2 linked regions of the Homo sapiens genome follow. The protein of the gene in region 1 interacts with the protein of each later gene in a pairwise test. Each region holds a gene or a part of one and is shown in the gene's direction. Other genes may lie near its edges.

Region 1 (16,305 bases):
CTCCGTCTCAAAAAAAAAAAAATTCCAGTATCATTAATAATTTTGTGTATATTTCAAGCAGTAATGGATAAATCTCTTCCTCCACATGCTGTTGTTATTTCTCCATGCTCTTTCTGTTTGTCCTGCAAATCTGGTTGTACTTTAAAGTGAACAGTTTAGAGGTCCTGTACTTCAAGGTACAAGGAATATTAGAACAAAGGACAATTAGTGTGAATTATATCAATGTTCTATAGCTCAATATATGTTTGTTTGTTTGTTTGTTTGTTTTAAGTCAGAGAAGCTAATGAGACAATCAGAATTGTTAACTAGTCCTTACTCCTTGGACAACAGCCTCCATGATCAACTTACGTTTATATCTTCCTTAGTGGTTTGTACATAATAGTAACACATATCTACTCTTATTTACTTAAGAGATAGTTAATAAATACCTCAAATTTCTAATTGGTATGGTTAGTATAACAGAGGCAGTCAAAGCTCAAAGATTCTAGCATACTTATATCTCTGAACATTTTCTGATATGATATAGAATTATCTCTTATCTTCAAAATCTACTTCTCTACTGGAGTTTCTTGGTGGAAAATGCAATTTAAAAAATCAGAATATCGGCTGGGCATGGTGTCTCATGCCTGTAATCCCAGAACTTTGGGAGGCCAAGGGTGGGAGAATCACCTGGGCCCAAGGATTTAAGGCTGCAGTGAGTTTGATCACACCACTGTACCCCAGCCTGGGTGACAGAGCAAAGACCCTGTCTCAAAAATAACAAAAAAATTGAAACATAAAGCATGTAATGATGTTTAGTATGAACATAACATCATACCTATCTATGATAACTGAAATAATCTGTAAGCTTTTCATGTAAATAACTAAAATTATAGTGTTTTAAAAATATTTCCTAAAGATTGTATATTAAACTTATAGCCAATAGATAGTCATTTGACTTCATTGAACATTTGTTAAGTGAGCACCTATTTATTGTCAGACATTAGAAATCTAAAGACAAATATGACCTTGTTCCTTGTTAAGGGATTTTCTATTTAGCAGAAAAACGGACTCATATACTTTGATTGTAACAGCATGATGCAAATGAGATGATATTCTGTAGACATGGAGTGAGCATAGTATTGTGAGATGCCAGAGGGGAGAGCTAGAGAAATGAATCAGTGGACAACTAGTAAGTCATGGGAGGTTTTAAATCAGGATGTGACACAACTAGGTGAATATTTTGGAATGATACATTTCTTAATGAAATTCAACGACTTAGAAACATGATGTGATAAGACCTAAACTAGGGCAGAGGCTGTGGGAATAGACGGGAGGGAACAAATGCAAGAGAGAGGTTTCAGAGGCAGAAGCAGCAGGTCGTAGAGACAGGATAGAGGAAGTAATTAAAAGAGGGAAAAGTCCAGGATAATCAAAGGTTTTCAGTTTGCATGATTGAAGCCAATGGAGATGACATTCGGCAGGAGGGAAAAGGGGGAAAATTTCAGAAAAACAACTGAAATCCCTTTGAAACAGATTTTCAGGGAGTAACTCTTGCATAGGAAGGAGTTGAACAGAGTTATCAACTGTATATATTTTATTCAAGGCCTTAGACATGGAATAAATTACTCAAAGAGCAAGGCAAGTTAGAGAAAGAAAAGGCCCAAAACTAGAACTCTGGATAATACCACTATTTGAGAAAGGGCCAAGGAGCTGAAGAAATGACAGCCAGAGAAATAAAAGAAGAAACAGGCTGATGGATGACCAGGAGATGAGTTTCAGAGGAAAGTGGTTAGCTAGCAGTATCATATGTTACAGAAAGGGCACGCAGGATGTGGACTAACAAAAGTGTGTTGAACTTAACAGTCAGGCCCCATGATGACATTTCAGAGTTCAGAAGGGCAACAGGAGCACCTGCCAGGTGTGTTGAGGTCAGGAGTAGGTAGCAGAGGCAGCAGGTCGTGGCTTCTGCTTCCTAAAGTTTAGCAGTGAGGAGTGAGATGGGGTTGTGGTGCTGGCATAAGCAGGCTCAGAGAGAGCTGGTTTTTCACTCCTCTTCTCTCTGCTTTTACAATCCTATTTACAGCCTGAGAAAAGTGAGTGAGAAGAAATTGGAGACACACAGACTCTGAAGAAGTTGAAAGAAATTGATATAAAACACAGAGAAATAGATATTAATAAACTATTAATACCTATTCAGGTAGTCTAGGAGCCTGCATCATCCTTGCCTACAGAGGTTGGCAGAGACTCTTCCCAGCTTCTTGCAGCAGAGTGCAAGCTGACTCTTCCATATAACCCCTGGCATTGGCGTAATATGTGCATATTAGTTGCAGGATGAATAAATGGATGATGATTTAGTCACAAGCCACACTATGTCTGTCTTGGCTGAGTCCCTTAGACAGTAGTGATTTTTACAAACACCACTGCACATGAACATCCAGAGTGAATAAGAAGTTGGGAAAGGCAATTGCGGTTGAAGCATTTGTGATGTGTTTCCCACTTCCCCTAATCATCCTCAACAAACAAGAAATAGAGGTCAAACATGATTGTATCTCACATGCCATGCATATGACCCCTCACCTCGGTTCTTTGCCATATAAATGATTTTTGCTATTGATTATAGCAGTAGTACCCATTGTGTGCTCTTTGGGGAAGCCTTTACTGTTTAAGATGATTGCCCTCTGGTGGTCTGATGTGTACCTTCTTCAGAATGTGAAAACCTGTGCATCTGCAGTAATAAAGTATATTATGCAGGAAATGAGATGAGTATTTCACCTCGAAAAATCAAATGGCTGATAAGGCATCATCTGAAGTGTACATGCTGAAAAATATGAAAATATGTTCCCCCAATCTCTGATCTTACGTATGATATAGAGAGACGTTAGCATTTAACACGATAATCCATAGCGGAACACACAAATAAAATCAGCAATCTCTGACACCAAGTTATCAACTACCTAAGAAATACACATATTTCCTGCCCAGGTATTAGGAGAAAAGTCTCATTTCTAAGAATGCTGTAGACTATATTTGTAAACATTTTGTTCATTTCTGTACCTTGCAGTTGAAGTCATTGTGTCATTGAGAAACCATGAAAATAAAAGTTTAAAAGTGATATCAGGGCAAATTGATTTCTGGAAGAAATCAAAAAAACCCCTTTTCGTGTTTGGTTTTCAGTTGTATCATAAGATACACACTTATTCAGAAGACATTTTACTGTATGCATAAAGTGGCTATTTATACCTGCAGCATTTTAAAGACACATTTTTGAAATTAACAAATGAATCTGTATAGCATGAATTATGCATATAGCAATTGATCTAGTAAGTAAATTTTTAAAATTCTGGTGGCATCATGATTCTGTAATTTATTTACAGGGCTTCTGTTATTTATAATTTTAAACTTTACTCTTCAATGTATTTTTTTTTATTTAGTTTGAACAATTTGAAAGCACCATTGGGTTTAAGCTGCCAAACCATCGAGCTGCCAAGCGTTTATGGAAAGTATGTGTTGAGCATCATACATTTTTCAGGTAGGAAGAGATTATTTTGTTTTTTCCCTAAGGAATAATTATAATCACTTATACTGAAAAAGATTGTCAATAAAAAATATGGAATTTTATTCTTTCTATCCCTTCAAGTTCATTGTCACCATATTTCTTGATAAGAAATCCTAAGAGAACTAGAAAAAGACTAAATTTGAAGGATTTTCCCTAATTTGTCATGTACTTACATGTCCCAAACCCCCCTTCTTTAGTATCTTTAGTGTGTTTACATTATTTTTAGGGTGTCCACTTCAAATATCCAATCCATTCCTTACTATTTCAATTCCTTACTATTTCAGTGATTTCTCAATACCCTGAATCCCTTTACCTACCTATGCATGGTACGAGACCCATCAAATTAGGCACCCAACACCAAATTGTCACTCTTCTTCTTCACTAATATCAAACTATTTAGTAGCTGTTTGGGCTTATAGAACCATAGACTGTCCACTTTGCGTGGAATGTTAAAAATTCATCTAGTTCAGTACAACCCTCATTTGCATATATCCTCTCTACAATATCCCTAGTTGATATATACTATATGCATTCTTTTATGAAATCAGATTTATTTAACTGCAAGTTGTGCGTTAAATGTTTAGCATGCAAAACACATGACCTCTCAGAGTAAAAAGTTTAAAAAGCACTCTCAATATTGGACTTAATAGTCTTTCTGCTGTTTTTCTTTATTCTCTTTAGACTACTGTTACCAGAAGCACCTCCCAAGAAATTCCTAACCTTGGGTTCCAAGTTTCGTTATAGTGGCAGGACACAAGCGCAAACGAGAAGAGCCAGTGCGTTGATAGATCGCCCAGCACCTTACTTTGAACGCTCATCCAGCAAACGTTATACCATGTCTCGCAGCTTGGATGGAGGTAGGCATCGCTTACTGGCCCTTAATAACCTAGTACCTACCCCAAAAAGAATGTGAAACTGTCATGAGCTTTCAGTAAGTATAGATATTCCTGGATATTGTATGTTGAAAAGCAGTTGTTGCTTATTGACTGAATGGCACATTTTTAAGTCTCCCCCAGCGAAATGAAAGTCCCTTTGTCAGTCTAACATCTGCAGGTTTATGTAAAATTACATAAAAGAATGGCACTTCGGGAATGAAGAAAATAGCTTTCATAAGCTGACACCCTGAATTTGGAGAAAGATGCTCTCATTCTAAATATAGTAGTCACATACTCTGTGATTTGATTCTCTTGCCAACAGGTCTTAAAGGATTGGTAGGTTTAAGACCATTTGTTTTATAAATCTATAAGTTAAATTTATTTCTGTTTCTAAAAAATCTTTATGAATAAAGTGTGACCTTTATCAGTCAGTTGATAATAGCTGGTAGAAAGGATGACATTCAAATAACAGAGCACAGGGTTGTAAGTTAAATTCTCCTAGTTGTGCTAATTACTACCCCAGATGGACTGGGAGAACAGTGCTAGGTAGGGGTTCTGTACTGCCAAGTTAAATTAGTCAAATGGAGAGATGATCATTCAAACTACCTTTTTAGGGGATAACACAACAGTGAATTTTTAGTAGGGTTTTGTTTTATCGAACAGTTTCTTGATTGCTCTCTGAAGTAATATGGAGGTACACTTTCTGCTGCAAGGCGTGCCCGCTGTAACAATACTCTGGAACTGAATCATGTCTAGGTCTCTGTCTTCTCATTTGGAGCACCTGGAGATTTGTTGTTTTTAATAGAAGATCTTATCCTGTGCAAATAAAAAGAATTAGGAGTTTCTGGTATGCAAGTATGGTTTAAATAATAAGGAAAAACATAAATAAAAATAAACAAAAGTTACAAGTGCATGGTACCATCTCCTTTCCTACCTTTTTTGCCACTGTTCCCCTGAGAGTCTCAGCTCTGCCTTCCCCATTTCACTAGCCGGGTGATTGATGGGGAGAGGTGCTCCTTGAATCTCCCAACTAAAAACAACTGTCTTTTTCTAATGGAATACTTTATGAACAGTTTATAGAAGAAATCAAAATGGCATTATTAGTGCTATATTATGTATGTTACTAGCGAGGTGGAAACTGTACTCTTGTGGCATGGGTAAATCCAGATTGAAGTCCAGGCTCTGCTGCCCTCTGTCTCTGCGGTGGTTGACAAATGATTTCAGCTCTCCAGGTCTGTTTTAGTCATCTGTATAATAGGAATAAGGCCGCCTTTGACGGGGCTGTTGTGAAAAGCAAGATATATGTGAAAGCACTCTTGTTACATAGGTAATTATCTCAATAATCATATTGATAATTACTCTTTTTTCACATTTTTTTAAAATTTCAGTAGCTTTTGAGATACAAGCAGTCGGTTTTTGGCCACATGGCTGAATTGTATAGTAGTGAAGTCTGAGATTTTAGTGCACCTGTCACCTGAGTAGTGCACATTGTACCCAATATGTAGTTTTTTATCCGTCACCACCACCCCCGCCACTGTCTGCCTTCTGAGTCTCCAGTGTCCATTATATTACTCTGTGCCTTTGCATACCCATAGCTTAGCTCCCACTTATACATGAGAACGTATGGTATTTGGCTTTTCATTCCTCAGTTACTTCATGTAGAATAATGACCTTCAGCTCCATCCAAGTCACTTCAAAATACATGATTTCATTCATTTTTATGACTGAGTAGTATTCCATGATGTATATATACCACATTTTATATTCATAATTATTCTTACAGGCTTTTGTGAGCTAGCCTAGGAAGTTAATTGCCATTGTGTGTCTTCTAAGAGTTTCCAGAATACCGAACTTAGAGCCAGCCCTTTTGAATAAAATAATTACCAGGACTGTTTCGAGCTGAATTAAGATATTGAAATATCGATGTTAACATTGAAGCTTTTCTTTCTGGTTTATCCTATTGACTCTTGTTTCTCCTTTAGAGTGTCTCTATTACCTATTTCTATATGTTATCAGTATTTGAGGAACTTTGTAGAATCGCACTTTTTTTTTCCTGAATATCATCCACTTTGTTCAGTGACGTGCACCCCAGGGAACACATTTGTTGTGAATGTTGTTTTCCTTATGACCTTTAGTGTGATAATGACTGCTGAGAAGACAGAAGACAATTGTGAAATCAGTGTACTAATGTCATGCTGTCTCTTTCTCCCTGCCCAAAAGTGATGTTAGTATGTGTTGTCTCTCACTCCTTGCGGTCCTGCCAGCTCTAGTATGTTTTCTGCTGCTGTTGAGCTGGGTGGCACAGCTGCATGTTGCAACATAAACTGCTTTTTTGCAAGGTTGCATCTCACAGAGAATGGCCTAACTGGTCCATTAGGAAGTTGTGTCTCATATGAGCTTTTTCAACGGTGTAAAGAGATATAAAATGTCTTAGTGAAGATATTTTAGTGACATAGTTTAGCTATCGAAAGCATTTCAGAGAGGATTTCATTTCAGAATCCTTTCTTTTATTTACGTTTTTAAATTCCTAAAATAATAATGTAGATATTTTGTCTGTGATTAGTTACTGTGTATTTGAAAAGCAACATTTATAAGTTTTAATAAATTTTATATCTAAAACCTAAAATAATGAGTACCAACTTTTAAAACTTAATTAAGCATCTTTTCACTAAGACGTTTTAGCTGGGATGAAAGGCTCTGTCTTATTCTCTTGAGTTTGCATGTTTTGCATTTGCATGAATTTCATTTAGCAACATTCATTGTGTTTTCCCAAAATATTAGAGATGAGTAAATGTATATGCATATTATGGTAGTCTGTTTAAAATGCAGTAGAAATGAAAACATTTCTGTACTTTAGGTGAATGGAATTGCCATCTGATTTTTATAATCTCTACCAAGATGGTTAATATTTGTTATTACCCATGGAGCTTTTATACTGTAAGAGTGATAGACTTTTCAACATTAATAATAATAATATGAAAACCAATTCAGTGCTCCTTGGTGAATGGCACTTCCAAAGAGCCAAGTGTATTAGAGCAATTGTGTACTGCAAAGACTGCTGTTAGGTGTGGAATTGGCCACTACGAGACTGGTGCCAGTGCCAGCCAATGGTGATAATATGCCCAGCGGCAGCCTCGCCTCATGACCCTCCACTCACCTCCACACTTACACACATCCTCAGCAGAGAGTCTGAGGATAGATGAAATTCCAAGACATGAGCATTTCACGAATTTTAAAGCACTCATATAGGAAATACAGGAAGGTCATGCTCTCATGAAGGTCCCTGCAGCACTGATTTGTTTTTTCAAGGCAAACCTGGTATTTTGTGTTGGTATTTTTTTTTTCAGTAAAGATATAGTTGGTATTGTTCATGTGTCTTCTGACCTAACTATTTTGGATTTTATTTCTTTAATTGTATTTGCTTTTAGCATCAGTGAATGAAAACCATGAAATATACATGAAGGATTCTATGTCTGCTGCAGAGGTTGGTACTGGCCAGTACGCCACAACAAAAGGCATCTCTCAGACCAACTTGATCACCACTGTGACTCCGGAGAAGAAGGCTGAGGAGGAGCGGGACGAGGAAGAGGACAAACGGAGGAAGGGGGAAGAAGTCACGCCCATCTCGGCCATCCGGCACGAGGGAAAGGTATAGCTCCCAGACTGCCTGCAAGAGCTTGCTCCAGCTTTTAAGAATGACTAAATGATGCTGAGGCTGTAAACCAGGAATGTGCTCAGATTTAGGATAAATCATATGTCAGCACTGGTCACATTCATATGTCAATTTTTAAATTATGATTGCTGTTTCAACATTTTTTCTCTGAAAGGTTCATTCATAGCTCTTTGAAAATTTTTATTTTAATAACTTGTGTGCTATGTAAGACTTTCAATAGCTGTCCTGTATGTGTATCTTAAAAATACTTTTGGTGGCGTATTACACTTTTCTGTTTGGGCTCACATTTCAGAACTGTCACTAAAGCTGTTTTCTTTGTTTCTGGCCCCATTCTCCTACCCAAGTACAGCATATTTTTCTAGATATACAATTATCATATTGCCATTCTTCTGACTGTAAGTACATGGAGTGACCACAGCCTACATATTTATACTTACGCCTAATCAGCAGAGTAGTGACTGGCCATGTTTTGAAAAGGGATCTTAAGGCAGAAAGTTGCAACAGGAGATAAAAAGGGAATTTGGCAGCAGCTTCTTCTTTCAGTGTTGAATTCATTAAACTTTGTAACATTGTTTCACCCCAAATTAAATATCTTTTTTAACACCATTTTTAAACACTATGTTTTTTTCTGGTGATCCAGCACTACAAAGCAACTTTTCAGAAAAATAATTTAAAAGTCAAAAAACCCTTCAGGAGGCTTATACCTAATAATAAGGGAAAAACAGAGTGGCTCCTGGCCTGTACAGAGCATAGAGTAAGAGGAAATAGCAGAATGAAAATGCTCATAATAACCCATGGGTTATCCTAAAATTTGAGTAAATTTGATTCACGAGTGATCTTTTGTACATGGGCTCTTCAAATAGAGATGGAGAATCACTACCCCGAATTCTATGGAAAGTGTTCCTTTTGATGAGAATTTAGCAGTGACATCTTAACATAGACAAATAATTTTTGTAGTTATGCTAAAATATTACAAATGGCCCAATCCATCATCTTTTATTTTTTGGGATAAGATTATTTATTTGGCAAACACAAAATTAAGCAGAGAGTAGGAAATAATGGCAGGGATATTTCGATAACTTTTGCTGTTAAAATGTGCTTTGTTCTAAATTTTGTTTTTACACTCTTCCTGTCTGTTCAGTCAAGGAAGGCTTTAAAGGGGACAGAAAAGAATATAATCCACCCAAAAAACAAATATGTGGTTCTTCTTCTTAGTTATTCTAACATTTTATAAACTCGCCATGCCAACATAAGATTCCCATGGATGTATAAGTATTGAAGAAGTGACACATCAATGTAAGTGATTTTTAGTTTTGCTCCCAAGATAAGGCCGGACATTTTCACTTTATTTGCTTTTAAAAGACCACCAGTTTGTTTATATAAAACGTAGCACTAAGCTGTCCTCACTTGGTGCCATTTGTGATGTGGGAAAAGACAAAGGACACTACCAGCCTCATAGCCTGAGTCTCTGAGAAGCCAGCACTCTGGGCAGAATGTCTTCAGGAAGTCTGTAGCTGAAATCTGGTGCTCATATAGGTGTGGGCTGGCTTGGTTTCCCCAGTGCAAAGCTGTCTTCTAGAAATGACTTTAATAATCAGCATGGAAGGTTAAACCTTAATTTTATCCTTCTCCTTCTTCAAAAAGTAACGCAGAGGGTACTTACTTTTCAACCAAAATGAAAGTGTATTACTGAAAATAGTTCTTGAAAGGCTGGTCCCCTAGGTTGCCTGGGAAGGAGGCACGTTTCCCAGGCTGGGATCCCCTGGGTCATGGGGCTGCCTCACCTCCATGCTGGAGGACAGTTGTCTTCATGCAGAAGTTAATGTGTAGCAGCTACATTATTCTTAGTTGAATGAGATTTGTGCAGGTTCCTGTTTAAAGTGCCGTCTTTAATGTCAAATGCAAATGTGTGGGAAAAGACATACTTCTCTCATCGTAAAAAGAGACCCTTCAAAGGCCGAAGAGCTACGATTTTATTTGTGCATTTTCTTTCCCTCATGCCTCAGATGTAACTTTATTTGTGCATTTTCTTTCTGTCGCTATATTTACCACTTCTCCCCAAGTCAGGATTGCATAACCACACAAGGCAGGCTGGGTAATTTCCATGCTGTCAGGCCACTGGGCAAAACACACACATACACACACGCAGTGACACAGACATCAGCAGAAGTCTAATTACTTTCAGGCTTGGATTTCCCGGCCTGCAGCAGCTGCTGTACCTGCCCAGGTCCTGCTTGGGGCTTGCGTGCTTTCCTTCCTCCCCTTCTTGTCCAGCAACCCCTCCGCCACCTGCAGAGGAAACTGGCCCTGGTCGTGGAGACTTCCAGGACCCAGAGAGGAGGAGAAGCAGATTCACTTGCCCCATAAAAGCTTGAGCTCACCAGGGGAGCACCTGTGGAAAACCCTGCTTTTATCATTATATTAAGGACTCAAACCAAAGATCTAAATATGCCCTTTATCTGCTAAGAAAAATCAGAAGGCTGGGAAATTATATCTTTCTGTTATTATGCATCATAAATAATAGAAAGTAAATACTGGCAAAGCATGTTACAAGAAAACACATTGTTTTTGCTAGTTAGCTTGTTGAAATCACTTCAGTTGAAGTTCCACTAATATCCTAAATAAAGGAGCCAAAATAGAGCTTTCAAGGGAACTTCAGTTCTTTTCTGAGGAGTGAGATATTCAGAAATGCTAACTGTCGAATCCCTGATTGTAACTACTTATCAGATAGGAGTGGGGCCAGAAACTTCTTGATTTGGAATGTAAACTCCTTGTTTTGGATGTAATTGAATAACCAGGGAAAGGACTAATGCTAGAGATTGGTTTTTTTTTTTTAATCAAAATCTGGATTGGATTTCATCTTCATTTTTAATCTAGCTGAACTATAGTAACAGCTCTGCTACCTGGAAATCAGGAGAAGGCTATTGAAAGTCTTCATGTTAAGTTATCAGATTTACTTATGTTTGCTCCCCAAAACCTGAAACTTTCTAGAGTTGTTAGTCTAAAGGGAAATTTTTTGACCATGTGAAATGTGTAGACTTTGGGATTGCCCACAAATACCTTCTGTTCTGAGTTTTTAAAGAATTCCACCTGTATGTGATAGTCTCATGGGAGAAATGTAGCCGTTCGTGGCAACAGTGGCATGCAGCTTGAATACTTTAACATTCATGAGCAACCCTAGTGCTAAAATTTTTGTTTTACAATTTTATATTGATACCCATAAGAAAATTAACTAATTGCAGTTTTCTTTTTGTCCTTTTGCACCTCTGTTTGCTGCTTTCTGTCTCTTTCTGTCTCTTTCACATCAGTCACCTGGGCTTGGCACTGACTCATGTCCCTTGTCACCCCCATCCACCCATTGTGCCCCCACATCTCCCACAGAGCTCCGTAGGAGGTGTAAGGAGAATGACTGCAAACTGCCAGGTTATGAGCCGTCCAGAGCTGAGCACCTGCCTGGAGAGCCCGCCTTGGACTCTGATGGCCCAGGGAGGCCTTACCTAGGGGATCAAGATGTGGCTTTTAGCTACAGACAGCAAACTGGCAAGGGGACCACCCTGTTCTCCTTCTCCTTGCAGCTCCCTGAGTCATTCCCCTCCCTCCTAGATGATGATGGATACCTCTCTTTCCCCAACCTTTCTGAAACCAACCTCCTGCCCCAGAGCTTGCAGCATTACCTCCCGATCCGCTCACCGTCCCTTGTGCCCTGTTTCCTCTTCATCTTTTTCTTTCTGCTGTCTGCCTCCTTCTCAGTGCCATACGCTCTCACTCTCTCCTTCCCTCTGGCTCTGTGCCTCTGCTACCTGGAGCCCAAGGCGGCCTCCTTGAGCGCCTCCCTAGACAATGACCCGAGTGACAGTTCAGAGGAAGAGGTGTGTACCTCGGCATAGAACACGCTTCCCCTTCGTGTTCCGTGCTTGAGTCCGAAACAGTGTTAGCTGGCTGCTGCCATAGTGGTCCTACTTTCAGAGCCTCATTTATTGTCTGTGCCAATATGTTGAGGTTTCTGTGTGTTGGGGAGTCCAACCTGGGCCCCAGGGTTAGGCACAACACCATGTGGATGTAGCAGTCTGAGCCCAACCCGGAATCGTTCTGCTACCCACTGAGTTCTACGTGGGATGAAAGACTCAGCCAGAAGTCAATTTTATATAACCCGTCAGCTGTGTAAAAGATCAGGGCTAAGCTAAAGGTTCTGATCAGTTATGGTTTAATAAGGTAAATCACATATAAGACAGATGATGAGTAGTTTTCAACTTAAATGACAGTCAAGGAGAGGTGGAAGAGTGCATCCCCGGAGGGGATGTATCATCATCACCTGGGTAGCTTTCTAAAGTTGCAAAGGTATCTCCTCCCTGGAGATCCTGAAATGTCCCCACCACCCTCTGCTCATCATTGCCAGACAGTCATTGTTACTCACAGAGAGGTCAGTCAATCAGATCCCGCATTGTATTGTGTCAGAGCAGTTTAAAGCACCCACATGACATCAGCCATTGGTAAGGGCAGAAACAAGCCCAGAAGCAACGGCATGCAGTGCAGCAGTGTTCAGACACAATCAGAAAAGGACTAAATTGAAGTTTTCAAACAATGTAAAGGCAGGCTGAAATTTCACCATGCTAGCAATGCCAATGCAGATAATATGACAGCGATTCTTTCAACTGCAGTATGAGTCTCAAAATCCCCCCATTTTCACAGTGTGCTGAGGCTGGGCCTCTATGGCTGCCAGCCAGACATGGACATAGTGGGCGAAAGACCCTGAACTATCAGCCTCCATCCTTGAAGGCATGCTGCTGCAGGGCAGGCTCCTGTCCCCGACTCGAGCAATTGGGCGAGCTGACATGGTAGCCAGTAGTTTTTCCTGTTAATTGTTCTCCTTTCCCACTGCCACACAGCCCAGTGAACAGCCCAGCAGTTTCTCTTTCTCCAGGCTTCAAATAGAGTGCAGGGAAGAATAATAGAAGCTGCCACCAGAGGCCCTGGCTGCTGTCATGCGCGCCCCTCCCCACTCCTCTCCCCAGGCTCCCTGCAGCCCTCCTGTTCCCACAGAACAAGAGCTGTTGTGATAGGAAAAAAGCAAAATACGCTTAGCATTTTTTTTTAAAGTCACAAAGTCAAGGCAATGCTAAAAAAGGAAAGAAAGTCTAAATCTGTGCTCAGCTAGAAAGTCATAATTTGAGCTGCACCTGTGAGTATATAGTATTATATGTTGAGGGTGTGCGAGTATCTATATTTAGTGGAATTATGACCATTTCTTTGCAGCAGAAGGAAAAAAATGTGAATGGTCTCACAGGTGTTTTAAGTAAAAGTCTACACTTTTAATAGATTTTGCATAAGAGACATTTTCAAGGTTCTTGAGTTATATATAACGATTTGCTCCAACTGATATATAAATAACTTTTTATACATGGAAAATATTTTGAGAACTACTTGAAATCCTAGGCTTTAATATCACTATTTCTCATATTGGCAATATTATCAAATAGTGTTGGACTAGAACATATTACAGTTAAGAACACAATATTGTCTACAAATACAATGTTATTATTTATTAGCTGATTTCTAACATGGAGATATATTTTTCCTTTAACAGTCGAGTTAGTCATCAAGCTAACATAAGGCAGAAAAGATTGCTGTTTTATGCTTTTCTAAATTCAAAATAAATATTTCAACTTTTATATAGCAAACCACACAGATCTTGTGCCTAATCCAGGGTATACATCTTGTTGTAATCAGTGCATGAGAATTAATGTTAAACTTGGGCATGTCTGCATTACATTGGCAAAACAAATCACAGCAGTTAATTGTTACAAGCTAGCGAACGTGTGATTGGAGCTTCCCAGTCATAACTGTCCTTGTTATTGCAAACCTCCAAAACCATGAATTAGCACTGACCACTGGAGTCTTCATCACCCTTCTCCGCAGCCCTAGTCAGCCTATATGATAGCTCTCCTGCCATCAGACTCTGTAACTAGCCATCTGTTCAGTGTTGTCTCTTGAAGTGTTAAGAGCTGTGCATTCTAGTTCAGGCTGAGCTAGAGAACTCATATTGAGGTCATTCTGGTCTGTTTTATTTAAATTGCCATTTGCTTACATGGCCTGATTTAATCTCTAGGCCTCAAGCACTGTGGCAGCTACACTGAGTGACTTCTTAACATACAATTCAGCCTTGTCACTTTCGTTTTGCCAAGTCACTACTAATTAATTCTTTTTAAATATTGTATCATCATTGCTTACTTTTTTAACATGTTATGGTGGCTTATTTCCAGCCTTTCTAAGAGTGAAATCCAGTATAAAAAGGCTTCAATATTTCACATTATAAAGCTGTTGACCAGTCATGTTTTTTCTTTTGTACTTTCAGAATGGTCAAATAAGGGGCAGGATATCAAAATATCCTATCAAGAAACATGAGATGAACTTACCTCCCCAAACCATAAAATGCAATTACATGTGTATTTCTGAGTAATTTTTTGATAATACAAAGAAAAATAGAGATAAGTTCAAATAAAGAGGAAGAAAAATTAACTGATTTATAACATTTTAAATTACATAAACAGTATTATATGATAGTTTATGATATGTTATATATTTGCAGTTTTATGTAGTCATCATACATTATAGAAATACCAGTTGCTATAAAAACTGTTTTATTCAGCCTTATTCATTTATTGACTCTTGATCAGGCACTATACTACTGACTGACTGACTAAATGCTAAGTAGGAATTCAAGAAATTTTATATGTGGACTATGCTATTTGTGTATGGCTGAGAAAAATAGGAATAATTATATAATATAATTGTTATAGGCATTTTTTTTTTTTTTTTTTAGCTCTGAGTGTGTCAGGCATTATATAGAGCACTTACTATCCATTACCCAATACAGTTAGGGCTGTTATTTTCCCCATTTTATGGGAAGGAAACTGAGATTAAAATATGAAAAGTGCCCAATGTGCCACAGGTTTGAACAGAAAGGATTTGAGCTCATGTTCATCTGACGTTAAACCTTTCCCTCTTAACGACCACTGTCCCCTAATGCTAAAATGCTTGCAAGTTACTGAAGTAAATTTTAAAACCACAAGGGAAATAAGCTAAATAGGAGGAGAAGCACTTTCAAAAATTTTAGAAGTGTTTGACACAGCTAATTAGAACACTAAATGCAAGTCATTCGAGCTGGGCGCGCGGTGGCTTACCCCTGTAATCCCAATACTTTAGGGGGCCGAGGCAGGCGGATCACTTGAGGTCAGGAGTTTGAGACCAGCCTGGCCAACATGGTGAAACCCTGCCTCTACTAAAAGTACAAAAATTAGCCAGGCATGGTGGCATGCACCTATAGTCCCAGCTAGGACTATAGGGAGTCCTCCCTAGTCCCACTAGGGAGGCTGAGGTGTGAGAATCACTTGAACCCAGGAGGCGGAGGTTGCAGTGAGCCAAGATTGTGCTACTGTGCTCCAGCCAGGGTGACAGAGCGAGACCCTGTCTAAAAAAATAAAACACTAAGTGCAAGTCATTCTTATTTATTCTTGAAAGCCTAAGATCTTTGAGTTATTCTGTACACCTGAACAAATAACTGGTCTCTCTTACTAATTCAAACTGGCCTTTCCCAGGGCTGTCACTCGGTACAGCCATACTAATCCCATAACAACAATCACCTTTATATGAAAATTAACAGCCACCTCCTGCCCCCAGTTGTTAACCAAGCCGGTCAGGTCATGAAAATGGGTCAACACGCTTTCCTTACCAACCTACAGAAAATTATTTTCCACTTAGACTTGGTAGCAAGGGTGCCAGAATGGTGTCCTCAGGTACATGTGCTGAGCATGTGTTCAGCCTCCCTTTCTTTTAGGAGTACGTAACATGAAACATGTGGCTAGTGCCAAGAAATCAGCATAGCCAGAGTTTAGTTTTGTCAGTGGAAACAACACTGTCCCAGTTGCCCCTTCCTGACATTTCTTGTTCTTTGTAGTGGGAGGTTATTTTAAGAACCAGATTCACCATCATAGACTCGCCTCCCATTTTCATTTTTGTTTTCAAAATATTAATCACAGATATTTGATCAAGGGAACTTTATTAATGATTAGTTGATATCTGTGGAGGGAAAGTCAGTTAATATTAGGGCATTTAGATGTCCACAGCTCTACTCTACTCGAGAGAAAACAGTTTTTAAGCCATAAACCCCTGTGAAACAGATTAAAAACCAGTCCTGAAATTACTGTTCTCATTCTCCTCAA
Region 2 (16,305 bases), on another chromosome or scaffold:
GGAGATTCTAAACAGACTCCCAAAGGTTTAGACCATCAAATATCAGAGCCACAAAATTACCAAACGAAATTTCTTAACAGTTTTAAAATAGAAATCTATTTTTTGACTCAGCAGTACATACATATGGTTCTAAATGAGACAGGTGGAAGAGGACACAGTGAAAAGGCTGTTGGATAACTTCCACTAGGTCAAGAAATTAAATTGAAAAAATAGCAGCTACTATTGGAACTATGTGATATACAAGAAAAACAAACTATGGAACTAGTAATATGACAAGAAAAAGACACATGGAAGGCTCTCTGGGTTTCATAGGAAAAGCATAAAACTAATCCAAGGCAATCAGGAAAACTCCCTGGAGGAGATGACACTTAAGGAGAAGTGATGGCCGGGCGTGGTTGCTCAAGCCTGTAATCCCAGCACTTTGGGAGGCCGAGGTGGGTGGATCACGAGGTCAGGAGATCGAGACCATCCTGGCTAACATGGTGAAACCCCGTCTCTAGTGAAAGTACAAAAAAATTAGCCGGCTGTGGTTGCAGGCGCCTGTAGTCCCAGCTACTCGGGAGGCTGAGGCAGGAGAATGGCGTGAACCCGGGAAGCGGAGCTGGCAGTGAGCCGAGATCGCGCCACTGCACACCAGCCTGGGTGACAGAGCGAGACTCCATTTCAAAAAAAAAAAAAAAAAAAAAAAGAGAAGTGATATCCAAAATATTTATTTCAACAATATTTCAGGAGCTCATGCCTGTAATCCCAGCAATTTGGGAGGTCGAGGCGGGAGGCTCACTTGCACTCAGGAGTTTGAGACCAGCCTGGGCAACGTAGTGAGACCTCATCTCTAAAAGAAAAAAATAAAAAATATTTCAGAGCCGGATGCAGTGGCTCACGCCTGTAATCCCAGCACTTTGGGAGGCAGAGGTGGGTGGATCACCTGAGGTCAGGAGTTCGAGACCAGCCTGGCCAACATAGTGAAACCCCACCTCTACTAAAAATACAAAAAATTAATTGGGTGTGGTGGTGGGCACCTGTAATCCCAGCTACTAGGAAGGCTGAGGCAGGAGAATCGCTTGAACCCAGGAGGTGGAGGTTGCAGTGAGCTGAGATTGCGCCACTGCACTCCAGCCTGGGCAACAAAAGGGAAACTCCGTCTCAAACAAACAAACAAACAAAATATATATATATATATTTATTTCAGGAGCTGAGTGTGGTGGCTTGTGTGTGTGGTCCCAGCTACTCAGGAGGCTGAAGCAGGAAGATCACATGAGGCCAGGAGTTCAAGACCAGTCTGGGCAATATAGCAAGACCCTGTCTTTAAAAAAAAACCAAACACCCCCTCAATATTTCAGAACAGAAGAGTGCTGCCTGTGTTCCTCATAGGGCCACCCCTCCCCCCATGTTAACCCTTTAGTTACAAGATGGAGGGAAGGTAGGGGCTGTGGACCCCACGTCTATGCTGAGACCCGAATGATAAATAGAGGCTGGTTGGCTGCAGAAGGTGGGAAGAGGTACAAGCTGAAGTCACAACTCCTGGAAAGAGCCCGAGGCAAGAGAGCAGATGAACAAGTGAGACTATAGGGGGTTTAGGGAATAATCAATGAAGAGACTGAGGTCCATTGAGGTGGTTGAAAGAGAAGAGCTTCTTTCTCCCCCAGCCCATCTTACAGATGGACAAACTAAGGCCCAGAGATAGCCACGGAGCTTCCTAAAATCACTCAGCCAGGACTAGGACCCAGGCCATCTGACTCCCAGCCCAGAGGGGAGTCAGAAGTGGGTGTGGAGCCTGCTCTGGGGAGGGGAGGGACAGCCACACTGACCATATCTGTCTGTCTGTCCTGCAGGCCCGGGGAGAAGGAGAGATGTCTAAATCCCTATGGTTCAAAGGCGGGTAAGTAATGAAACTGTGAGCGGTGGGAGGAAGATTTGAACCCCAAGTCCAAGGCTGGTTTGCGCCTGAGCCTCAGCCCAGAGAGGAGGAGGAGGGGTTCCATTTAGACAGGGGACAGATTGAGCTTGGGCAAAATACGTCACTTTCATAAGGCACACAGCCATACGCAGACACAAAAGACAGTAATCTTTGAAGACAGGGCGGGGTGCGGTGGCTCATGCCTGTAATCCTAGCACTTTGGGAGGCCGAGGCGGGAGGATCATTTGAGGTCAGGAGTTCGAAACCAGCCTGGCCAACATGGTGAAACCCTGTCTCTACTAAAAACACAAAAATTAGCTGGGCATGCTGGCAGGCGCCTGTAATCCCAGCTACTTGGGATGCTGAGGCAAGATAATTACTTGAACCCGAGAGGCAGAGGTTGTAGTGAGCTGAGATTGCACCACTGCACTCCAGCCTGGGAGACAGAGCGGGACACTGTCTCAAAAATAAACAAACAAATAAATAAATAAATAAATGTAAGATAAAGCAGACACTATGAGGAACTAGACACTATTGGGAAATGTACACTATATATTTGTAATCCTGGAGCAAAATTTTTGCGTTGATTCTATTTTTAAATCTCTTTGATTATTGCTACAGTTGTGGGCTCTTTAATTAAAGATAGTTGTTTAGTCTTCAGTGGAGAATGTGGTCATGTCTAACCTCTTATGTTATGGATTTTCAGGTTAGAGGATGCACAAGATATTTTAAAAATATGCTCAGGTTTTAAAATAGCAGCACGATAGTGACCTTCCTTGTACGTCCTTGGCAAACAGGCAGGGAGACAGCAGCTGGGACTCCTAAATAAATGAGCAGGTACCCTAGCTAGAGAGCCTTGGATGCGGGTCCTGAAATGCGGATTCCTGTGCACGTGATTTATGAAGGATGTGCTCTCGGGAGAAACCTGTCAGACAAGGGGAGGCTGCCGAGAAAAGATGTGGTTTAGGAGTCTCTAAGCCTCAGTTGGCTCCTGCAGAAAGCTTTGTAGGTTGAATAGCCCTGCAGGGCTTGTCTGGAGTCATTGGCTGCAGGCACCTATCTCACTGGCCAGTGAAAACCTTTTCGGGGCCAGGCTTGGTGGCTCACGCCTGTAATCCCAACACTTTGGGAGGCTGAAGCAGGTGGATCGCCTGACGTCAGGAGTTCAAGACCAGCCTGGCCAACATGGCAAAATCCCGTCTCTACTAAAATATACAAAAAATTAGCCAGGTGTGGTGGTGCATGCTTGTAATCCCAGCTATTTGGGAGGCTGAGGCAGGAGAATCACTTGAGGCTAGGAGTTCAAGACCAGCCTGGGCAACATAGCGAGACCCCCATCTCTACAAAAGAATTTTTTTTTAATTAGCTATGTGTGGGCCGGGTGCAGTGGCTCATGCCTGTAATCCCAGCACTTTGGGAGGCCTAGGCGGTTGATCACCTGAGGTCAGGAGTCTGAGACCAGCCTGGTCAACATGGTGAAACCCCATATCTACGAAAAATACAGAAAATTAGCCAGGTGTCGTGGTGCGCACCTGTAATCCCAGCTACTTGGGAGGCTGAGATAGGAGAATTGCTTGAACCCAGGAGGCAGAGGTTGCAGTGAGCCAAGATCATACCATTGCATTCCAGCCTGGGCGACAGAGCGAGACTCCATCTCAAAAAAAAAAAAAAAAAAAAAATTTGCTGGGTGTGGCGGTGTACACCTATGGTCCCAGCTACTCAGGAGGCTAAGGTGGGAGGATTGCTGTAGCCCAGGAGGTGGAGGCTACAGTGAGCCGTGATTGTGCCACTGCACTCCAGCCTGGGTGACAGAGTGAGATCTTGTTTCGAAAGATGGCTGGGCATGGTGGCTCACGCCTGTAATCTCAGCACTTTGGGAGGCCAAGGTGGGCGGATCGCCTGAGGTCAGGAGTTCGAGACCAGCCTGGCCAACATGGTGAAAGCTTGTTTCTACTAAAAATACAAAAATTAGCCAGGCGTTGTGGTGGGCACCTGTAATCCCAGCTACTTGGGGAGCTGAGGCAGGAGAATTGCTTAAACCTGGGAGGCAGAGGTTGCAATGAGCCAAGAAAGGTTTCATCTATATTTTATTTTATTTTTGATACAGAGTCTCGCTCTGTCACCCAGGCTGGATTGCAGTGGCGTGATCTCGACTCACTGCAACCTCTGCCTCCTGGTTCAAGCAATTATCCTGCTTCAACCTCCTGAGTAGCTGGGACTACAGGCATGCACTACCATGCCTGGCTAATTTTTGTATTTTTAGTAGAGACGGGGTTTCACCATGTTGGTCAGGCTGGTCTCGAACTCCTAACCTCAGGTGATCCGCCCGCCTCGGCCTCCCAAAGTGTTGGGATTATTACAGGCGTAAGCCACCACTCCTGGCCTCATTTATATTTTAGTATATTATTTAGATTTGCCTTAATTCACGTTTTCATTCAAGGTGGGCAATTACATCATCTCCCCATTTTTCAGATGAGGAGGGTGAGGCCGGGTGTCTCCATTTCTTAGGACTGCTGTCACAAAGTACCACAGACGGGTAGCTTAAAACCACAGCAATGTATTCTCTCACAGTTCTGGAGGCCAGAAGTCTGAAATCAAGGCATTGGTAGAGCCATGCTCCCTCTGAAATCTGTAGAAGAGAATTCCTCCCCTGCCTCTTCTAGCTTCTAGTTTGCTTGAATTCCTTGGCCCCCGAGTATTGGTTTGTAGATACGTCGCTTTCTGCCTCTGCTGTCACAGAGCCACCTTCTCCCCATGTATCTCTTCTTCTAAGGACACCAGTCATATTAGATTAAGTGTCTACCCTACTCCAGTATGACCTTATCTTAACTAATTACATCTGTGACAACCCCGTTTCCAAGTAAGGTCACCTTCTGAGGTAGTGGGGGTTAGGGCATCAGCGTATCTTTTTTTTGAGGGACCCAATTCAACCCCTTAACACCTGGGGGAGGTTGAATGTTCTCCCCAGGGCTCTATGTGAGGAATAGGGACATCTGGGCCCTCAGTGTCCCTCTGTGTCTTTCAGCCCAGGGGGCGGTCTCATCATCATCGACAGCATGCCAGACATCCGCAAGAGGAAACCTATCCCACTCGTGAGCGACTTGGTAAGCACCCTCGCCCTTTACTCCCTGAGCAGAGCAGGCCTGCTATAAGCAGTGCACAACCTGTGGAACTGCCCATGGTCAACCTGGGGTTGGGGGCCAGCTAGGCATTCTCTGAGACTAATGTAGTCTGATTTCTACCCCCATGTGCTGCGTGGACACTTCAGGCCATGGTGAGTGATGGCGACATGGGCCTCTTGGGATCTTCTCCCCAAACTCCCCCACTGGGATCTTCTAACAGGCCCCCAATTCATGGATTATGGGGGAACCTTGCCATGTCCCACTGTGTTGGATGCTGTGAGTCAGGGGTGCGGGGCTGCTCACTTTCCAGGGTCCCTTCTAACTCAAAGCCTCTGTCACCTCCTAATTCTTTGTTGGGTCTGGCCCGGATGCTGTCGGTGACCTGTTTCCAACTTGCGGTTGTGGCTCCAAAATGTGGCTGCTGGCCCCATCCGTGGCTGTGAACTCTCCTGGTGGTGATCTCATGGATGTCAACCCCCCCGACTCCCTCTTCTGTGACCTCCCCAGTCCCTGGTCCAGTCCAGGAAAGCGGGCATCACCTCGGCCTTGGCCTCCAGCACGTTGAACAACGAGGAGCTGGTGCGTGGGGCACCTCTTTTTCCCCGGGTCAGGGATGGACTGGGCTAGGAGCTTCTGGAATTGTCCAAGCCTCTGTGGGTCCCCGGGAAGAGGAAGGGTGTGTGTGTGACACAGACTGGCAGAAGGCAGCGTGGATTCCGACAGCGTGGAGGCAGGGGAGGGCCTGGGACTTTACCGCGCTCAGTGATGGGGCGGAATGGGGCAGGACAGGGACAGCGCCAGGTTAGGCGCCCCCAAACCGCACCCCATCCCTCCCTGCAGAAAAACCACGTTTACAAGAAGACCCTGCAAGCCTTAATCTACCCCATCTCGTGCACGACGCCACACAACTTCGAAGTGTGGACGGCCACCACGCCCACCTACTGCTACGAGTGCGAGGGGCTGCTGTGGGGCATCGCGAGGCAGGGCATGCGCTGCACCGAGTGCGGTGTCAAGTGCCACGAGAAGTGCCAGGACCTGCTCAACGCCGACTGCCTGCAGCGTGAGCGCAGGGCCTGAGCGCAGGGCCACGGGTTGGCGTGGGGAGCCCCGGGGCTTGCATGGCGGGGAAAGGCTGAAGGGCAAGGCGATGGGTGGGGCACCATGGGGCGGGGCAAGGGGCGGGGCGTCGTGAGGCAGGGGAGGGACTCGCTGAAAGGGAGGGGTGGGGTTAAAGGCGCAGGACTCCCTGGTGGAAGGGCTAGGGGGTCGAGGGGTGGGGAAAGAAGCTGTGAGGGTGTCAGAGAGGGGTGGGGCAGGGCTCAGGGACTAGCTAGGTTGTGCAAAGGACAGGCTTAGTGAGAAGAGGCAGCTCCCCTGGATAAAATGGGTTAGCTAGGGGTAGCTCTGAGAGGAAGAGGGGCTCAGAGAGGGAAGGGGTTCAGACTGCGAGAGGACTGTGGAGGGGGGGATTGGAAGGGGGAGGGGACTCAGAGGAGGTGGGACCAAGAGAAAGGGAGGGGTCTGAGAGATGGAAGGGGCTCAGGAATGTGGAGGGGACTCGCAGGGGTGGAGATCAGAGACGAGGAGGGGATTCAGAGGAGTGGGGCTCAGAGAGGCAGCGGGACTCAGAGGGGTGGGACTCAGAGAGGGGGCGGAGATTCAGAGGGGTGGGACGCAGAGGGGGCGGGGACTCAGAGGGGTGGGGCTTAGGGAAGAGGCCTTAGAGGGGTGGGGCTCCAAAAACCAGTGGGGACTCCAAGGGGTGCGGGGCAGAGAAGGGCAGGACGCAGGGACATGGCGACTCAGAGGAGCATGGCTCCGAGAGGAGGTGGAAGGGTGAAGGGTCTGGGTGGGGGGTACAGAAAGCAGGTAGGAAACCGGCTTCAGGGGGTGACACCTGAGTCCCCCCGGTTGATGAGTAGGGGCGGGGCTCTCGCCTTGGTGAGGGGCCACTATGCAGGGCGCGCTGGGGTCAGCGCCGGCCTCGGGCGTCCTCAGGGGCTGCGGAGAAGAGCTCCAAGCACGGGGCGGAGGACCGGACACAGAACATCATCATGGTGCTCAAGGACCGCATGAAGATCCGGGAGCGCAACAAGCCCGAGATCTTCGAGCTCATCCAGGAGATCTTCGCGGTGACCAAGACGGCGCACACGCAGCAGATGAAGGCGGTCAAGCAGAGCGTGCTGGACGGCACGTCCAAGTGGTCCGCCAAGATCAGCATCACCGGTGAGGGGGCGTGGGCCGCCATAGGGCCCCTCCTTCTCCACCCTCTGAGACCTGTCTCATGCCCTGTCCCATGGCCTGGTCCCTCTCCTTTGCAGCGCGCACTCACTCGGTCGGGTGCATTCCATCTCATCTCCGTGTGTGCACGCATATGGGGGGACATGCGTGCCTCCAAACGCCTGTTCATGGCACTGTATCTGGGTGCGTCTTGGATGGTGCCCTCCAGAATGAGACTCCAAGAAGAGGAATTGAGGGTGCATGGTTTATCTGGAAAGTGACCCCAGAAAGTCCTGGTGAGGGGCAAGGACTTGAGACAGGGATGGAAGGAGTCCTGAAGGAGATGCCGTTGAGCAGACAATGCTGTGGGCAAGGGGGTCAGCCCATCCTGGGGCCACTGGGGACAATGTCGAGCATGCAGCTCAGTGTGGCCCCACTTAGGGGCGAGGATACTGGCTTTTCTCCACACCCAGCCTCATGTGGGTTTCCCCATAAACAGACCTGAGGATGAGGATTTCAGGTTATGTGGGTTATCCAGGAAGTGACCCCAGGACGGAGCTGGGGTGGTAAGTCAGGGAGGGAAGGAACCCTGCAGGGGGCACCAACGAGCAGGAGATCTCGGGGGGCAATGGGTTCTTGTAAGTGTCTGACCTCAGGGAGTTCACACCTGAGAGAGGTCCTACCCATGCGCAAGGCAGCTGGGGCACCTTCCCATCCTTCATGGTTTGGGGACTCCTTCCCAGCACTTTGGGAGGCTGAGGCTGAGGCAGGCGGATCACCTGAGGTCAGGAATTCGAGACCGACCTGGCCAACATGGTGAAACCCCATCTCTACTAAAAATGCAAAACGATTGGCCGGATGGGGTGGCACGTGCGGGTAATCCCAGCTACTTGGGAGGCTGAGGCAGGAGAATTGCTTGAACCCGGGAGGCGGAGGTTGCACTCCAGCCTGGGTGACGAGCAAAACTCTGTCTCAAAAACAAACAAACAAACAAACAAACACACAAAAAACCTCTCTGGCAAGCCCAGCGTGCCCTGCCATTGCTCTCCAGCCATGCTGCAGGTGTCCCAATTATCAGCCTGCAGCGTGTGGCAGTGACTGTCCCCAGCATGCCTCGCTTCTTGAGTGCACACCTGTGTATGCCCTCTGTGTCTTCCAGTGGTCTGCGCCCAGGGCTTGCAGGCAAAGGACAAGACAGGATCCAGTGACCCCTATGTCACCGTCCAGGTCGGGAAGACCAAGAAACGGACAAAAACCATCTATGGGAACCTCAACCCGGTGTGGGAGGAGAATTTCCACTTGTAAGTGCCTGGCTGGGTCCCTGGCCCCATGTGGGGCATCCTGCTGGGGCAGCCAAAAGAGGGCTCCAAGGACAGGACTCACACTGGCTGCCTGACCCCTGCCTCTGCCTCCTCCTCCCGCCACAGTGAATGTCACAATTCCTCCGACCGCATCAAGGTGCGCGTCTGGGACGAGGATGACGACATCAAATCCCGCGTGAAACAGAGGTTCAAGAGGGAATCTGACGATTTCCTGGGGCAGACGATCATTGAGGTGCGGACGCTCAGCGGCGAGATGGACGTGTGGTACAACCTGGGTGAGAGAAGCTGGGTTCTGAAGCGGGTGGGGACGGGTCCCAGGGATCCAGCCAGAGCATGGAGCCCACGAAGAGCAGAGAGATGTGTTCTCAGGAGGAGTTTGGTCGAGGAGCATAATCTGATGGGGGAGGCAGGGTCTAGGAGCCCAGTTTGATGGGAGCAGGAAGCACCCAGGCCAGGAGGGTGAGCAGAGCCCAGGAACCTCTTAGTTCAGCTTAGGAGGGAGGGTGGGGACAGAATCTCCATGTTCTAGTCTAATGGGGGAGGCAAGAAGCAAGAACTGGGAATCCTAGTCTGAGGGGAGAGACAGAGACCTAGGAACTAAATCTAAGAAAGAAGATTGAGCTTTAAGAATCCAGGCTGGGGCCAGGTATGGTGGCTCACGCCTGTAATCCCAGCACTTTGGGAAGCTGAGGCAGGCAGATCACATGAGGTCAGGAGTTCGAGACCAGCCTGGCTAACATGGTGAAACCCCGTCTCCACTAAAAATACAAAAATTAGCCAGGCGTGGTGGTGGGTGCCTGTAGTCCCAGCTACTTGGGAGGCTGAGGCAGGAGAATCGCTTGAACCCAGGAAGCGGAGGTTGCAGTGAGCTGAGACTGCGCCACTGCACTCCAGCCTAGGCAACGAGAGCAAAACTCCCACTCAAAAAAAAAAAAAAAAGAATCCAGGCTGGGGGCGCCGGGCAGTGGCTCACATCTGTAATTAATCCTATCACTATGGGAGGCTGAGGCAGGCCAATCACTTGAGTCCAGGAGTTCAAGACCAGCCTGGGCAACATAGTGAAACCCCATCTCTATAAAAGATACAAAAATTAGCTAGGCAGGGTGACACTCACCTGTGGTCCCACCTACTCTGGAGGCTAAGGTGGGAGGATCCCCTGAGCCTGAGAGGTAAAGGCTGCAGTGAGCTGTGATCACACTGCTGCACTCCAGCCCAGGGAACAGAGTGAGACCCTTTCTCAAAAAACAAATATGGCCGGGTGCAGTGTCTCACGCCTATAATCCCAACAGTTTGGGACGGCTGAGGCAGGCAGATCACTTGAGGTCAGGAGTTTGAGACCAGATTGTCCAACATGGCGAGATCAAGCCCCTGCACTCCAGCCTGGGCAACAAAGGAAGACTCCGTCTCAAAAAAAAAAAAAAAAAACAAAAGAAAAAGAAAAAAAAAATGGAATCCAGGCTGGGCATGGTGGCTCCCACCTGTTATCCCAACATATTGGTTGGGTGGCTGAGCTGGGAGGGTCACTTGAGCCCAGGAGTTCGAGACCAGCCTGGGCAACATAACAAGGCCTTTGTCTCCATTAAAAAAAAAAAAATAGCTGGGTGTGGTGATGCGTGCCTGTAGTCCCAGCCACTTGGGAGGCTGAGGTGGAAGCATCATTTGTACCTGGGAGGTTGAAGCTGCAGTGAGCTATGATCATGCCACTGCACTCCAGCCTGGGCGATAGAGCAAGACTCTGTGTCCCCCCGACCCCCCACCACAAGAAAAGAATCCAGTCTAAAGAGGGAGGTATTGTTTGGGAATCCTAATCTGAGATGGCTGCTACAGATCAAAGAACCCTGTGTAAGGAAGTTGAGTAGAATCTGGGGAGTCCAATCTAATGGAGGAAGCAGGGTGTATGAGCCTAATCTGAGGGGGTAGAAAGGACCCAGCCTGAGAGAGGTGAGCAGAGCCCGGAAACCTCTTAGATTGGAGGACATCTAGATATCCCATTCTGATGGGGGAGGTGGGAGACAAGACCAGGGGGTCCTAGTCTGAGGAGAGAGGCACAGACCCAGGAACAGTGTCTAAGATGTGTAGTCTCCGGGGAGCATGATCTGATGGGGGAGGCAGGGCCTGGGAGCTCAGACTGGGAAAGAAGTGGGGCCTAGGGCTGCTAGTCTAAGGAGGGAGGCACATAGCCAGGAACTTAATCTGAGTGAAGAAGCAAGGTCTGGGATCCTTGTTTGAAGGAAGAGACAGGGCTTAAGGAATTCTAGCCTAAACAGGGAGACTCAAGCCTAGGGAGCCAATCAGAAGAGAGACACCAAAGCCTTAGTTTCCGGAAGTCTGGGAGGACTACAGAATCGTGTATCTATTAAAAATTGCCTTGGGAGGCCGAGGCGGGCGGATCACCTGAGGTCAGGAGTTCGAGACCAGCCTGGCCAACATGGTGAAACCTCGTCTCTACTAAAAATAAAAAATTAGGTGGGTGTGATGGCACATGCCTGTAATCCCAGCTACTCGGGAGGCTGAGGCAAGACAATTGCTTGAACTCAGGAGGTGGAGATTGCAGTGAGCCAAGATTGCGCCACCGCACTCTAACCTGGACCACAGATCTCAAAAAAAAATAAAATAAAAAAAAATTTGCCCATGGCTGGCCGGGCGCGGTGACTCACGCCTGTAATTCCAGCACTTTGGGAGGCTGAGGTAGGTGGATCACCTGAGGTAAGGAGTTCGAGACCAGCCTGGCCAACATGGTGAAACCCCGTCTCTACTAAAAGTATAAAAATTAGCTGGGCACGGTGGCAGGCACCTGTAATTCCAGCTAGTTGGGAGGCTGAGACAGGAGAATCGCTTGAACCCAGGAGGTGGAGGTTGCAGTGAGCTGAGATCGTGCCACTGCACTCCAGCCTGGGTGACAAGAGCAAGACTCCCTCTTAAAAAAAAAAAAATTGCCCACTGCTATAGTGGGAAGTTCTGACACTGTCTTCTTTTTCTGCCCTGCAGACAAGCGAACTGACAAATCTGCCGTGTCGGGTGCCATCCGGCTCCACATCAGTGTGGAGATCAAAGGCGAGGAGAAGGTGGCCCCGTACCATGTCCAGTACACCTGTCTGCATGAGGTGAGGGTCATTGCTCGGCCCCTCCCATGCCACTTCCACTCACCATTCCTGCCTGCCCAGCTCTTCCTCTTTCTGGCCACACCATCCACACTCTCCTGGCCCTCTGAGACTGCCCGCCATGCCATTCCCTTTACCTGGAAAACTCCTCCCTATCCATCAAAGTCCAGATTCAGGGTCACCTCCTCTGGGAAGCCCACCTTGGCCTCCAGGTTGACTCTCACTACTCATCATCAGGTTCTTCCTTCTATTCCAGCCCTAACCACTCAGGATTGGGCCGTTTGTGTCTGGGTATGTCTCTTCCAGCTGCCTGGGTTTCCTGGAAAGAACTCTTATCCCCAGGAACTAGTTTGTTGAATAAATGCTGGTGAATGAATGAATGATTGAACAGATGAATGAGTGATGAGTAGATAAAAGGATGGATGGAGAGATGGGTGAGTACATGGATGGATAGATGGATGAGTTGGTGGGTAGATTCGTGGCTAGATGGATGATGGATGGATGGACAGATGGATGGATATATGATTGAACTATTGAAAGTATAGATGTATGGATGGGTGAATTTGGGGGTAATTGTTAGATGATGGATGAGTATAGATGAATGATGGATGGATAACTTGATGAGTGGATAGATAGATTGCTGGATAGATGATTGACTGGGTGGATAGATGAAATGTTGGATGAGCAGATTAAGTTGTATTGGATGGGATGGATGGAAGTGTGGTTGAGTTATTAGAAGGAAGATTGAGTAGATAGGTGAATTTGTTGATAGTCAGATGGGTAGATAGGTAGATGGATGGATGGATGGATGGATGTATAGGCAGATGGACAAATGGATGAATGGGTGGGTGGATGAATGGAAGGATGTGTGGTTGAACTATTGCAAGTATTGATAATTGGGTTCATAATTTCTGAATATTTAGATGGATGGTTGTGAGTGGCTGGTGGACAGACGAAAAATGGATGGTTGGATAAATTGATGGGTGGATGGATGGTTGGTTGTATGAAAGAATGAATGATTGGGTAGGTGGATTAAGTTGCGGATCAATGTATGGGATGGATGAATGGATGGATGGATGGATGTGTGGTTGAATTACTGAAAGGTTGGAAGAGTGGATGGGTGAAATTTGGGGTAGTTAGATGGGTGGGTGTGTGGATGGATAAAAGAGTAGATGAATGAATTAATGAATAAACAGGCAGATGGATGATGTAAGCTGCCCCAGACCCTGGGACCTCTGACCCCCGGCGACCCCTTGCACTCTCCATGACACTTTCTCTCCCATGGTGGCAGAACCTGTTCCACTTCGTGACCGACGTGCAGAACAATGGGGTCGTGAAGATCCCAGATGCCAAGGGTGACGATGCCTGGAAGGTTTACTACGATGAGACAGCCCAGGAGATTGTGGACGAGTTTGCCATGCGCTACGGCGTCGAGTCCATCTACCAAGCCATGACGTGAGACTGCAGGCTGGGGTGCAGGAAACAAGAGGGAGGTCACCAAGTGGGCACTGGCAGGTCTGGGGTGGGAGGGATTCTCAGGGGGAAGACCCAGAGAGGAAGTGGGCGTGGTGGTGGTGGGTTCCGTAATTCCCCTGGAGATCAGGAGAGCGCTGTGATTGACACCTGGAGTGACATGGAAGAGAGGGAAGACTTAGAAGCAGAGATAGAGGCTGGGCACAGTGGCTCAAGCCTGTAATCCCAGCATTTTAGGAGGCTGAGGTGGGCGGATCACTCCAGGTCCAGGAGTACAAGACCAGCCTGGCCAACATGGTGAAACCCCATCTCTACTAAAAATACAAAAGTTATCCAGGTGTGGTGGCTTGGGCCTGTAATCCCAGCTACTCGGGAAGTTAGGGTGGGAGAATTGCTTGAACCTGGGGGGCAGGGGTTGCAGTGAGCCGAGATTGCGCCACTAAACTCCAGCCTGGGTGACAGAGTGAGACTCCATCTCAAAAAAAAAAAAAAAAGAAAGAAAGAAAAAAAGAAGCAGAATTAGAGCAACTCAAATGGATATAAAGATGGAGGGGAGAGGAGATGCGGAGACCCAAAGGACAGAATCAGGCAGGGGATGGTTTAGGAGGTGACAGAGACCCACTCACAGATGCTATCTTGGAGGCATTCTAGGGGGGATCTTGGTCCATCCTGGCTGGACCCCTGGCCTAGTGCCTCCTGCTCCCTCTCTCCAGCCACTTTGCCTGCCTCTCCTCCAAGTATATGTGCCCAGGGGTGCCTGCCGTCATGAGCACCCTGCTCGCCAACATCAATGCCTACTACGCACACACCACCGCCTCCACCAACGTGTCTGCCTCCGACCGCTTCGCCGCCTCCAACTTTGGGGTCAGTCCTGGGGACTGGGATTGGAGAATTAGGGAGAGCCCAACTTTATGCCGGTCAGATCTGATGTGACTTCTGGGTCCCCAGTCTAGACCTGATTGCTGTGTGACTTTCCACCAGTCACTTCCCGTCTCTGAGCCTCCATTTATTCCTCTGTAGAATGCTATAGAATGGAGGTCGGGCGCAGTGGCTCATGCCTGTAATCCCAGCACTTTGGGAGGCCGAGGCTGGAGAATCACTTGAGGCCAGGAGTTCGAGACCAGCCTGGCCAACACGGTGAAAACCCGTCTCTTCTAAAAATCCAAAAGAAAATTAGCTGGGTGTGGTGGCCTGTGCCTGTAGTCCCAGCCACTTGGGAGGCTGAGGCAGGAGAATTGCTTGAGCCTAGGAGTCGGAGGTTGCAGTGAGCTGAGACTGCGCCACTACACTCCAGCCTGGGCAACAGAGCAAGACTCTGTCTCAAAACAAAAAAAAAAATGCCATAGAATGGAAATGGACATTATGAGGGTGGTGGATGAGGTATACTTACTGTACAGTAGGCGCTCAGCCACTATGGCGGCCATGTCCTGCCTCCATCCATCCTCCCTCCTCCCCTTCCTCCTCAGAAAGAGCGCTTCGTGAAACTCCTGGACCAGCTGCATAACTCCCTGCGGATTGACCTCTCCATGTACCGGGTAGGAAGTGTGTGCATGAGAATTTGCTCACCCCACGCACATGTGTGTGCCTGGAGGGGAAAGCTACCAGCAGGTGTGTGCATGGGAGGACCCATCTTCGCATGTACGATGTGTTCCTCCAGCATGTGTGCACCTGCATGGGCACTACCTGCCGTAATGTGCTTGGTGCATCCAAGCAGATCCCCAGTTGCTTCGAGGTGCTCTAATCAACCCCCAGCCTGAAACCGGGGAGCCTTTGTATCCCCCTGAAAAGCAGTCTCCCATCCTCCCCACGCCTTCTTCCATAACCCCACATCTCTTCCTGCTCCCAACAGAATAACTTCCCAGCCAGCAGCCCGGAGAGACTCCAGGACCTCAAATCCACTGTGGACCTTCTCACCAGCATCACCTTCTTTCGGATGAAGGTAGGAAAGGATCCAGTTGCCTTTGCTCTCCAAGGAGGGTTCTCTAGGATCCCCAGCTCCCAGGACAAGTGACATTCCTCCTGGAGAGTGGCAGCCTTTCTCAGTAACCTTTTCCTTTCATACCACTTCATTTCCTTAAACCCAAAATGACTCGCAGTCACTTCCTGGGGACCTCCTGTCACAGCTGTGGCCGCCTATGCCTCTCTCCCTCCCTTCAGGTACAAGAACTCCAGAGCCCGCCCCGAGCCAGCCAGGTGGTAAAGGACTGTGTGAAAGCCTGCCTTAATTCTACCTACGAGTACATCTTCAATAACTGCCATGAACTGTACAGCCGGGAGTACCAGACAGACCCGGTGAGACTCCAGATGGGTCAGAAGGGAACAGTGATGCCAACTAGACACAGGCTTCAGTCCCAGCCCTGCCCCTTCCCGAGGGATTTAACTCTTCTGAACCTCAGTATCTTCTTCTATAAAATGGGGTCATTAACCCACATCTCAGGATTAGGGAGAAGAGTTCATGAGCTGTAAGTTTAGATAAAATATAGTCGGCACTCAGTACATTTGGTTGCGTAGTTGAGTTTGGCATAAAAAAAAATTTTTTTTTTTTGAGATAAAGTTTCACTCTTGCTTCCCAGGCTGGAGTGCAGTGGTGTGATCTCAGCTCACTGCAACCTCTGCCTCCCAGGTTTAAATGATTCTCCTGCCTCAGACTCCCGAGTAGCTGGGATTACAGGTGCCCACCACCACACCTAGTTAATTTTTTGTATTTTTAGTAAAAACGGGGTTTCACCATGTTGGCCAGGCTGGTCTCGAACTCCTTGACCTCAGGTGATCCACCTGCCTCGGCCTCCCAAAGTACTGAGATTATAGGCGTGAGCCACCACTCCCAGCCTGGCATAAAAATTTATGTCTGGCATACAGTCACTGTTCAGTAAATGTTGAGTTGAATTGAATTTATTTATTTATTTTGAGATGGGGTCTTGCTCTGTTGCCCAGGCTGGAGTGCAGTGATGCAATCATGGCTCACTGCAGCCTCGACCTCCCAGGCTCAAGTGATCCTCCCACCTCAGCCTCCCAAGTAGCTGGGACTATAGGCACGCACCACCATGACAGGCTAGTTTTTGTATTTTTGTGGAGATGGCATCTCACTATGTTGCCCAGGCTGATCTCCTGGGCTCAAGCGATCCTCCTGCCTCAGCCTCCCAAAGTGCTGGGATTACAGGCATGAGCCA

Evidence for each region.
Region 2: the proteins of EPB41L3 (region 1) and UNC13A interact in a two-hybrid assay, tested with the Homo sapiens proteins (one study listed by BioGRID and IntAct).

Annotation. Positions count from the first base shown.
Region 1 is NC_000018.10:5,411,468-5,427,772, reverse strand, and holds part of EPB41L3 (band 4.1-like protein 3), read left to right. Parts: intron 1-3,413; coding exon 3,414-3,511; intron 3,512-4,219; coding exon 4,220-4,395; intron 4,396-7,841; coding exon of another isoform or gene 7,842-7,895; coding exon 7,896-8,062; intron 8,063-11,394; coding exon 11,395-11,955; intron 11,956-16,305. UniProt on the Homo sapiens protein: Tumor suppressor that inhibits cell proliferation and promotes apoptosis. Modulates the activity of protein arginine N-methyltransferases, including PRMT3 and PRMT5.
Region 2 is NC_000019.10:17,638,205-17,654,509, reverse strand, and holds part of UNC13A (protein unc-13 homolog A), read left to right. Parts: intron 1-1,832; coding exon 1,833-1,879; intron 1,880-4,922; coding exon 4,923-5,001; intron 5,002-5,165; coding exon 5,166-5,171; intron 5,172-5,526; coding exon 5,527-5,598; intron 5,599-5,859; coding exon 5,860-6,079; intron 6,080-7,017; coding exon 7,018-7,245; intron 7,246-8,398; coding exon 8,399-8,540; intron 8,541-8,666; coding exon 8,667-8,836; intron 8,837-11,549; coding exon 11,550-11,665; intron 11,666-12,953; coding exon 12,954-13,117; intron 13,118-13,848; coding exon 13,849-13,999; intron 14,000-14,601; coding exon 14,602-14,670; intron 14,671-14,984; coding exon 14,985-15,074; intron 15,075-15,292; coding exon 15,293-15,427; intron 15,428-16,305. UniProt on the Homo sapiens protein: Plays a role in vesicle maturation during exocytosis as a target of the diacylglycerol second messenger pathway.